Linked DNA regions of Homo sapiens: region 1 is linked to region 2. The links come from fine-mapping of genetic effects on gene expression. A gene starts in region 2. The other region holds a variant in brackets. All regions are shown on one strand. Distances are between the middles of the regions. Region 1 has its middle 9.2 kb from the start of RAB37-AS1. Region 2 holds the start of CD300LF (CD300 molecule like family member f).

What was found. PIP is the estimated chance that this variant, and not a neighbour inherited with it, causes the effect. A credible set is the group of variants that fine-mapping cannot tell apart.
Region 1: its variant is the best candidate, but not a certain one, in a credible set for the expression of CD300LF in adrenal gland (GTEx, PIP 0.71).

What each region holds. Positions count from the first base shown.
Region 1 is chr17:74,684,088-74,689,463 of GRCh38, reverse strand. It overlaps a transcript of RAB37 not described here. Among named protein-coding and RNA genes, the nearest start is that of RAB37-AS1, 9.2 kb to the right of the region's middle. The variant A/C (reference allele first, on the strand shown) is at 3,158.
Region 2 is chr17:74,709,713-74,715,088 of GRCh38, reverse strand. It overlaps CD300LF (CD300 molecule like family member f), which reads left to right and starts at 2,166. Exons shown (of 7, transcript NM_139018.5): 1 at 2,166-2,265. The coding sequence starts at 2,223. It also overlaps a transcript of RAB37 not described here.

The DNA.
Region 1 (5,376 bases), 26 kb after region 2:
TTTCTTTTTTCTTTTTTTTTCCAGACAGAGTCTTGCTCTGTCACCCGGGCTGGAGTGCAGTGGCGCAATCTTGGCTCACCACAACCTCTGCCTCCCGACTTCAAGCGATTCTCTTGCCTCGGCCTCCCAAGTAGCTGGGATTACAGGCATGTGCCACCATGCCTGGCTAATTTTTGTATTTTTAGTAGAAACGGGGCTTCACCATGTTGGTCAGGCTGGTCTTGAACTTCTGACCTCAGGTGATCTGCCCACCTCGACCTCCCAAAGTGCTGGGATTACAGGTGTCAGCTACCACACTCGCCCACACCTGGTTAATTTTGTATTTTTAGTAGAGACAGGGTTTCACCATGTTGGCCAGGCTGGTCTTGAACTGACTTCAAGTAATCCATCTGCCTCAGCCTTCCAAAGTGCTGAGATTACGGGTTTGAGCCACTGCGCCAAGGCTATTTTTCCTCTACATGTTTTATTTTGACTTAAAATATCTAAATGTGTAGTTATTAGCAAGTATTTTGATGTAGACCTAAAGCCTTTGCTTTGCTTACAAGTCTGCTGAAAAGTGGGGCCCATTGCCTTTCCTGAAGCACAAACCACACACACATGATCCTGGGGTTTCAGTTCCAGTTTCTTTAACATGAAGCAAGAAATTCTAGAAACTTATGAAGCCACCTGATTGCAAAATCTTTCTTCATTTTTATGCATTTCTTTCCGATATTTTACAGTTCTCTCATTCATTCCTAATTTGATAGCATTTTAAAAAGTGACAGGCTTTTATAGTGTCTTTCCAAAGCAGTTTAGTTTTTGTAGAGATAACCGTTCTCTTTTTTTTTACACTCTTATTTTATTGGTCAATAGTCTTTCTGTTTAAATTCCTTTGTATTTTCTTTTTCTTTTCTTTTCTTTTTTTTTTTTTTGAGGTGCAGTCTTTCTCTGTCACCCAGGCTGGAGTGCCGTGGCGTGATCTCAGCTCACTGCAACCTCAGCCTCCCAGGTTCAAGCAATTCTCCTGCCTCAGCCTCCCAAGTAGCTGGGATTACAGGCACCTGCCACCATGCCTGGCTAATTTTTTTGTATTTTTTAGTAGAGACAGGGTTTCACCATGTTGGCCAGGCTGGTCTCGAACTCCTGACCTCAGGTAATCCCCCTGCCTTGGCCTCCCAAAGTGCTGGGATTACAGACGTGAGCCACCACGCCCGGCCAATTCCTTTGTTTACAGGTGAATTGATTCAAGTACATCATTCTAGTTAACACGTATGACCAGCATAAGCAAGTATGGGCCCAAATGCATTCTTGTTAACCAGGTACCACAACTGTGAGAGCAGAGAAGAGCCTGCCAGCTGTGAGCACTCTGTGCCTCAGGCTTAGTCAGTGTGCTCCAGTAAGAGACTGAAGGGTATTGGTTGACCTAATAAGTTGGTTAAGTGAGGGGTTGCTTAACAAAGTTTCTATTCAACAATCCATTGTCACCATAATTTCATAAAAGAAAGGAGCTTTGAGCACCCCAAGTCTCAGGATAATAGACAGTATTTCCTAAGAAAGGACAGTTGGTAACTTTATGCCAACATCTACTGATGTGTGTGTATCGTTTCCTACACATCAGTTGGTACTTGTCAGGGGCTGGTACTTAGGTATGGACTGAGAATTGGCAGCCATGGATCCGGTTCACACTGTTCTCCAGGCATGGACCCGCTCCATCACATCTCCGCTGGTGTAGTGAGGCTTCCCCTGAGGGCCTCTAGTGACCCTCTTTGTTTGGAGGCTGATGAAGGTTGTCACTAATGAGAGCTGTGGAGCTCTCCAGTAGTTGTGAAAGGGACCCTTGAAGCAATCAGATTCCCCCTGCCCCAGCACAAGCCCCTTCCCCAAAGTAGTCCACTGTGACCATATCCTCACATGGCTCTGTCCTGAGGGTCTGCAACTCTTGCATCAAGAAAGGGTGACTTGGCTGGGTGTGGTGGCTCACGCCTGTAATCCCAGCACTTTGGGAGGCCGAGGCAGGTGGATCACCTGAGGTCAGGAGTTTGAGACCAGCTTGGCCAACATGGTGAAACCCCATCTCTATTAAAAATACAAAAATTAGCTGGGTGTGGTGGCGGGCCCCTGTAATCCCAGCTACTTGGGAGGCCGAGAAAGGAGAATTGCTTGAACCTGGGAGATGGAGGTTGCAGTGAGCCAAGATCGTGCCATTGCACTCCAGCCTGGGAGATAGAGCAAGACTCCATCTCAAATAAATAAATAAATAAATAAATAAAAATAAAATAAATAAATAAAATAAACTGAATAAATAAAAAGAAAAGGTGACTGACTCATTTGTTTTTCTGAAGGTACCTCTGAGGAGGGGCTCAGAATTAAGGGAGGGGAAAGACTGTCCCCCAAGGTCAGAAATACAGGAGGGACATTCTGCACCCTTGTGTAGTAGAAATCTGCTATGAGCAGAGCAGAGCACTGGCACTTGTTGGCATTTACATGCAGAATGCTGCCCTCTATCAATGACGCAGAGGGTTTCCACGACAAAGAAGCAACAGGTCACAGGCCCTGATCTCAGCTATACTGCCCGGTGCCTTCCCTCAGTTCAGTGGAAAGAGTTGTGAAATTCAGACGGTGCACTTATTTCAAACTTCACACAGCCTCTGCAAAATTAATAATAAGCAAAGAAGGACTGCGACCCAGAGACCTTGCATCCTTGCACTGTAACATCCAGCTGTCTGGCAGGTGGCAAGGGAAAGAACCAGTGGAGATGTAGGTACAGTAAGTCAGCTTAAAATACTAGAAGAGGCTGGTTGTATGGCTCATGCCTGTAATCCCAGCACTTTGGGAGGGCTAGATGGGTGGATCATTTGAGGTCAGGAGTTAGAGACCAGCCTGGCTAACATGGCAAAACCTCGTATCTACTAAAAAAAATACAAAAACTAGCTAGGTGTAGTGGTGTACGCCTGTAATCCCAGCTACTCGGGAGGCTGAGGCAGGAGAATCACTCGAACCCAGGAGGTAGAGGTTGCAGTGAGCTGAGATGGTGCCACTGTACTCCAGCCTGGGCAACAGAGCGAGACTCCATCTCAAAAATAATAATAATAGGCCGGGCTTGGTGGCTCACGTCTGTAATCCCAGCACTTTTGGAGGCTGAGGCGTGTGGGTTGCCTGAGCTCAGGAGTTTGACACC[A/C]GCCTGGCCAACATGGTGAAACCCCGTCTGTACTAAAAATACAAAAAATTAGCCAGGCATGGTGGCGTGTGCCTGTAACCCCAGCTACCTGGGATGCTGAGGTAGGAGAATTGCTTGAACCTGGAAGCAGAGGTTACGGTAAGCCGAAATGGCACTACTGCACTCCAGCCTGGGTGACAGAGTGAGACTCTATCTCAAGAAAAAAAAAATATAACAAGATATGAGGGCAAATGGGAGAGAACGTGGAGATAGAGTGAAGGAGAGTCTGCCCAGGGGCAGTGCTGGTGCTTGCAAAGCTTGGCTTGCTTTCCTGGGCTTCTTACCCTGCACTTGGGTTGATGGAGGCAAATCCCCAGGGGATGCTGTTGTTTGCTCCTCCACTCCTGAGACCCAATTAACGGTGACTAACTGCATTTGGGCCTGCTTCATCTGAGCAGCTCTGCACGCAGGGTCTTGAATCCACTTTGTGAATGAATATCTCCCACTGGCATTGATTTTGCTTTGGTGTTTATCCTGGGCCAGGCTGAGATTGTCACCTGGGCTTCACTAGCATTTCTGGAGGTCAGTGATAAAGGGGTTTGGGGGAGCTTCCAGTCCAAGCCTTCCCTTTCCTAAGGACCTTGGGAATCTAGGGAGGGATAAGGAGAAGAGTTAGGGTCTGGAGTTGAAGCTTGGATTGGGGTTTCTCTTTTATTCCCTGCTGAGTGCCCTTGAACAACCACTGAATGTCTCTCAGATCTCTTTTCTCTTCTACGAAATGGAGTGTAACTAAAAGTGCCGCAGACCCATCAGGCTGTGATTTCAAAGTAACCAAACTAGGGCTTGGAGCAGTGGTTCACGCCTGTAATCTCAGAACTTTGGGAGGCCAAGGCAGGCAGATCACTTGAGGTCATGAGATCGAGACCAGCCTGGTCAACATGGTGAAACCCTGTCTCTACTAAAAACACACAAAAAATTAGCTGGGTGTGATGGTGCACACTTGTAATCCCAGCTACTTGGGAGGCTGAGGTGGGAGAATCGCTTGAACCCAGAAGGCAGAGGTTGCAGTGAGCCGAGATCGCGCCACTGCACTCTAGCCTGGGTGACAGAGCAAGACTCCATATCAAAACAAAAACAAAGTAACCCAATTAACCTTCTATCCCATGGCTATCTTGCAAAGTGGATCCCAGCTACCTATAGGAGCCTTCTTTTTTTTTTTTTTTAAGGCAAAATGTTAGCATTTAGTAAATATAGATGGTAGGTACATGTGTCATTTTCTTTTTGTTCTTCTAGTTTTTGTACCTTTCTATGAGTTTCAAAATTTCAGAATAAACCATGAATTTTCACTTATCTATACAATGGAATTCTATGTAGTGATTAAAAAGAATGAAGGTAAAAATGTGTATAACAAAATTCCTATGATGGATCTATCTATCTATCTATCTATCTATCTATCTATCTATCTATCTATCTCACACATATGTATAAATAAACACATGCATGTATTTTTACATGGCAATTTCATCTTCTTTTTTTCTAAGGCAGAACCTTGCTCTGTCACCCAGGCTCGAGTGCAGTGGCACAATCTTGGCTCACTGCAACCTCTGCCTCCCAGGTTCAAGTGATTCTCCTGCCTCAGCCTCCTGAGTAGTTGGGGTTACAGGGACCCGCCACCATGCGCGACTAACTTTTTTGTATTTTTAGTAGAGACAGGGTTTCGTCATGTTGGTCAGGCTGTTCTCAAACTCCTGACCTCAAGTGATCCAGCTACCTCGGCCTCCGAAAGTGCTGGGATTATAGGCGTAAGCCACCGTGCGCAGTCCATTTTTATTTTTAAGATATGTATTTTGAAACACTGGCATCACAGGAAATTTTTTCTTTGTTTTTCATTTTTCAAATTTTGCAATTAAATATATTAATAATAATGGCTCTCTTGGCTGGGTGTGGTGGCTCACGCCTATAATCCCAGCACTTTGGGAGACTGAGGCAGGTGGATCACTTGAGGTCTGGAGTTCATGACCAGCCTGGCCAATACCATCTTTACTAAAAAAAAAAAAAAAAATTAACAGGGCTTCATGGCACACATCTGTAATCCTAGCTGCTCAGGAGGCTGAAGTAGGAGGATCACTTGAACCTGGGAGGCAGAGGTTGCAGTGAGGAGGCAGAGGAGGCAGAGTGCATGCCACTGCAGTCCAGGGTGACAGAGAGAGACTCGTCTCAATAAATAAATAAATAAATAA
Region 2 (5,376 bases):
GTGCAATGGTGCGATCTCAGCTCACTGCAATCTCCACCTCCTGTGTTCAAGTTATTCTCCTGCTTCAGCCTCCTGAGTAGCTGGGATTATAAGCACCCACCACCACACCCGGCTAAGTTTTGTATTTTTAGTAGAGACGGGGTTTTGCCATGTTGGCCAGGCTGATCTCGAACTCCTGACCTCAGGTGATCCACCTGCCTTGGCCTCCCAAAATGCTGGGATTACAAGTGTGAGCCACTGAGTCTGGCCCTTCCTAATCCTTTTATATCCCCAGTCCCGACCCTAGGGACTTGCTGGGGTCTTGATGGGAAAGGAGAGATGGGGGATGGACATGATTGTCAGAAGGAGGAGAGTGAGGGGCAAAACTGGTCCTTCCTTTCTTCCTTCCTTCCTTCAACAAATAGTTATAAGGTGAGGGGTGGAGCGAGGGGATAATAGTCCTGAGCAATGAACTGGTTTCCTCAGGTAGACCCCCTGGTACAATGGACAGGTTTCTGGAAGATTCCAGATGTAGGTATCCCTGGGATCTCACCTGGTGGGCTGGGGTACAGCAGTAGGAGCTTCCTTCGTGTTCTCAGGACAAAGCGCCTCTTGTCAGTGGGCCAGTAGTTCCCTGCTTGCATCTCCCTTCTCTCTGAACCTCTCTGTGCGTGCGTGTGTGTGTGTGTGTGTGTGTGTGTGTGTGTGTGTGTTTAAAGAGACAGCGTCTGCTCTGTTGCCCAGGCTGGAGTACAGTGAACAGTGGCTCAATCATAGCTCACTGCAGTTTCGACCTCTTGGGCTCAGGTAATCCTCAGGCCTTAGCTTCCCAGATTGCTTGGACTACAGGCATGCATGACTCTGCAGAACTAATTATTATTATTATTGTTATTATTTTTGAGACAGAGTCTTGCTCTGTTGCCTAGGTTGGAGTTCAGTGGTGCGATCTGGGTTCACTGCAACCTCTGCCGCCTGGGTTCAAGTGATTCTCCTACCTCGGCCTCCCGAGTCACTGGGATTACAGGTGAATGCTACCACGCCCAGCTAATTTTTGTATTTTTTAGTAGAGATGGGGTTTCACCATTTTGGCCAGGCCGGTCTCTAACTCCTGACCTGGAGTGATCTGCCTACCTTGGCCTCCCAAAGTGTTGGGATTACAGGCATGAGCCACCATGCCTGACTTTTTTTTTTTTTTTTTTTTTTTTTTTTTGTGGAGATGAAGCCTTGCCATGTTGCCCAGGCTGGTCTTGAACTCCTGGCCTCAAGTGATCTTCCTGCCTCAGCCTCCTAAAGTGCTGAGATTACAGGTGTGAGCCACCGTACCTGGCCTTGTAGTCTGGGGTTGGATACCCAATCTCCTCATAGCTGCCTTCCAACCTTTGGTCTGGAATCTCTCCTCTGGCTTTCTGACTTTGGCCACAAGTGCCCCTCAATCCTCTTGAACTTCTGGCCTTCTGGGCTCCCAAGCATCTGGCTACACCTGAAGCTCCAGGTTTAGGACATCGTGTCTATCAGCCGTGGCTCTCCAGGACCCCTCTGGTGGAGCCGCGTGCCCCTGCCCCCAGCCAACCCACCAGGTTTGGAGGATTGGATAAGGGCTGGCCAGACCCAGTGGATCTGTCTGCAGGTTTCCACATGACAGAGGAGCCACGAAGTTCTCTTTTTAGAGAACCCACGGTGGCTGTGTACAGAGAGGTACTTCTCAGAAGCTGATGATTCCTGTGACCCCTTGCATTGTCAACTGCCTCGAAATTTCACCCTTTCCACCTCCTTCCTCTTTTTTTTTTTTTTTTTGTTTTTGTTTGAGACAGAGTCTTGTTCTGTCACCCAGGCTGGAGTGCAAGTGGCACGATCTCGGCTCACTACAACCTCCGCCTACTAGGTTCAAGCGATTCTTCTGTCTCAGCCTCCTGAGTAGCTGGGACTACAGGTGTGCGCCACCACGCCTGGCTAATTTTTGTATTTCTAGTAGAGACGGGGTTTCACTATGTTGGCCAGGCTGATCTTGAACTCCTGATCTCGTGATCCGCCCGCCTTGGCCTCCCAAAGTGCCAGGATTACAGGCCTGAGCCACGGTGCCCAACCAACCACCTCCTTCCTCTTTTAGTCTCTTTCACCCATGGGAAGTGACTGAAGGAGGAAGTTCAAGGGCGAGAGTGAGTACCAGCAGAAGGCTGGGAGTCTGTAGTTTGTTCCTGCTGCCAGGCTCCACTGAGGGGAACGGGGACCTGTCTGAAGAGAAGATGCCCCTGCTGACACTCTACCTGCTCCTCTTCTGGCTCTCAGGTGAGCGGGCCTGGGTCTGTCTTCTTGGGGAAGCTTAGCAAGCAGGAGGAGGTGGCTGAGAGAGGGAAGAAGGGACCCGGCCAGAAGGTGTCCTTAATGGCATGAGCCTTGTGCGTTTCATCCACATACCCACCATTCACCTAGCATTTCCGTTGCCAAGGCAGGAATACAGGGCATGACCTTCATAATGAAGCCAGTGCAAGGCAGAATTCCTGACCCCCAGGGGCTGATCATGTGAAATGGACAGACTGTAGGCCCCGCCGGCCAGGGAAAAGCAGAGGAGGAACATGGGCTGCTCAGGAGAGCAGGCGACTGCCTGATCCTGGACTGGGTGATCTGTCACCTGCGTGGAGGTGTTCTGAGCAAGGGCAGGCGTCAGGGAAGAGGTGAGGCTGGAGGACTTTGAAAGGAGGGAAGAGGGAGTTTGCTGGGCAGAGAGGGAGTGGTGGTTCTAGGCATTTGGGGCAGAAGGAAATAGTAGAAGTTGCTGAGGGACGGAAAGGTCAAGAGGAGATAAGACTGGCAGGGACGTAGAGGAAAGGAGGGACTGAGATGTGGGCAGAGCCAGAGGGCAGGAGACACCTTAAGTTGGTGCATACAATTTTTATTAAAAATGAAGGGAGGCCAGGGAAAGAGGCTCATTCCTGTAATCCCAGCACTTTGGGAGGCTGATTGCTTGAGCTCAGGGATTCGAGACCAGCTTGGGTAACATGTGGAAACCCTGTCTCTACAAAAAGTACAAAAATTAGCCAGGTATGGTGGCATGTGCCTATGGTCCCAGCTACTTGGGAGGCTGGAGGCTGAGGCATGAGGATCACTTGAGCCCAGGAGTTGGAGGCTGCAGTGACCTGTAATCACACTACTGCCTTCCAGCATGGGTGACAGAGCGAGACTCTGTTTCAAAAAAAAAAAAAAAAGAAAAAAGAAAAAAGAAAAAAAAAGAAAGAAAACAAAAAAATAATTTCAAGAAGTGAGAAGTGATAAGTACTGTGAGGAAAACAGAACAAGATGATATGTTACAGTGGGACCCAGGTAGGGGGATGCTGTAAGTCAGGTGGGCTGAAACAACCCCCCTGAAGAGGGTCCCAGATGCCTGTCCGAGCCGAGACCTAGGAAAAGGATCAGACACAGGATCGGGACCAGCTTTCCAGGCACAGGGAACAGTAGATACGAGGGCTCTTGTGTAGGAATGAGCTTGGACTGGGCACGTCTGAGGAAGAGGGAGGTCAGCACGGCTTTGCCTCATGCTTCAGAAGATCCTGGTGGGACAGATTGGAGAAAAGGTCTTGGGGAAGAAAGTGACTTGTCCAGGACTGCTAGGCTGGTACAGGAAGAGCAGGGAGTGGCTCATGGACACTTGGCCCCGAGTTTCAGCATGTAAGTGGAGAAGGCAGACTTTGGGTGAGATGTTATGAAATGCATTGGCACAGTGAGACCAGGACAGGTATGGCTGCTTTTTTTCTGACACCTGGAAATGAGAGAATTTGGTAGTGAGCAGATGTGAGAGTCGTGTTGGGAGTGGGAGTGGTTTGGGACCTCTGTCTGAAGTGGGCAGAAAAGCCAGCAGGCACAGCTATGGGCGCCAACATGGAGCCCGGATACCACTGTGAACCTGCATGCATCAGCTCTTGCCAGCCTCTCCTGCAGAACTTCCACCCACAAGCAGCAAGTGTGCTTACCCTGTTTCCCTCTTCTAAATAATTTATCGTTTTAAAACACCCAAGAAAAAAAATACCCATCCGGAAGTTTGTTTTCTGTGAGAAAGGAAGGTTTTTTATTTTTTTTGAGTTGGGGTCTCAGTCTGTTGCCTAGGCTGGAGTGTGGTGGCATGATCATAGCTCACTGCAGCCTCAACTCCTGGGCTCAAGTGATCCTCCTGCCTTGGCCGTCTGAGTTGCTGGGATTAAAAGCATGAGCCACCGTGCCTGGCAAGAACAGATTTTTTGTTTTTTTTTTTGAGACAGAGTCTCGCTCTGTCACTCAGGCTGGAGTGCAGTGGCGCGATCTTGGCTCACTGCAACCTCTGCCTCCCAGATTCAAGTGATTCTTCTGCCTCAGCCTCCCAAGTAGCTGGGATTACAGGTGTGCCAGCATGCCTGGCTATTTTTTTTTTTTTTTCGTATTTTTAGTAGAGATGGGGTTTTACCATGTTGGTTAGGCTGGTCTCGAACTCCTGACCTCAAGTGATCCACCCGCCTTGGCCTCCCAAAGTGTTGGGATTACAGGCGTGAGCCACCGCGCCCAGCCTCACTGTGCTTTTTTTCCATAAGTCTTTATTGTTTCTGTTAAAGTTATTCCTAGGAATTTAATACACTTTTATTGCTAATGTAAATGAGCACTTTTCTACTTTACTTTCCAACTATTTATTAGCAGTTTATAGGAAAGCCATTGATTTTTACATGTTTATTATTTAGCCACTCTATTAAATTCAATTATGAATTAAAATACTTTTTCATTTAAAATTAAAAAATTTTCTCTAACTTTTTTCCCTTTTGATAATTATACATTTTATGTTTTTCCTTATCTTCCTATATTGATTAGAATTTCCAGGCTGGGCACAGTGGCTCACGCCTGTAATCCCAGCACTTTGGGAGGCCAAGGCAGGCGGATCACAAGGTCAGGAGATCGAGACCATCCTGGCTACGGTGAAACCCCATCTCTACCAAAAGTACAAAAAATTAGCTGGGCGTGGTGGTGGGCGCCTGTAGTCCCAGCTACTCAGGAGGCTGAGGCAGGAGAATGGCGTGAACCCGGGAGGCGGAACTTGCAGTGAGCCGAGATTGAGCCACTGCACTCCAGCCTGGGCGACAGAGCCTGACTCCATCTCAAAAAAACAAACAAACAAAAAAGAACTTCCAGAATCATGTTATTATATATATTGGGAATTCATGTTTTGTTTATGATGTCAATAGGAATGCCTATAGTATTTCACTGTTAAGAATAATTTGGCTGGTGATGCATGATGGCTCAAGCCTGTAATCCCAGCACTTTGTGAGGCTAAGGCAGGCAGATCGGTTGAGTCCAGGAGTTTGAGACCAGCTTGGGCAACAAAGTGAGACCTTGTCTCTCCAAAAAAAAAAATACTAGCCTGGTATGGTGGTGCATGCCTGT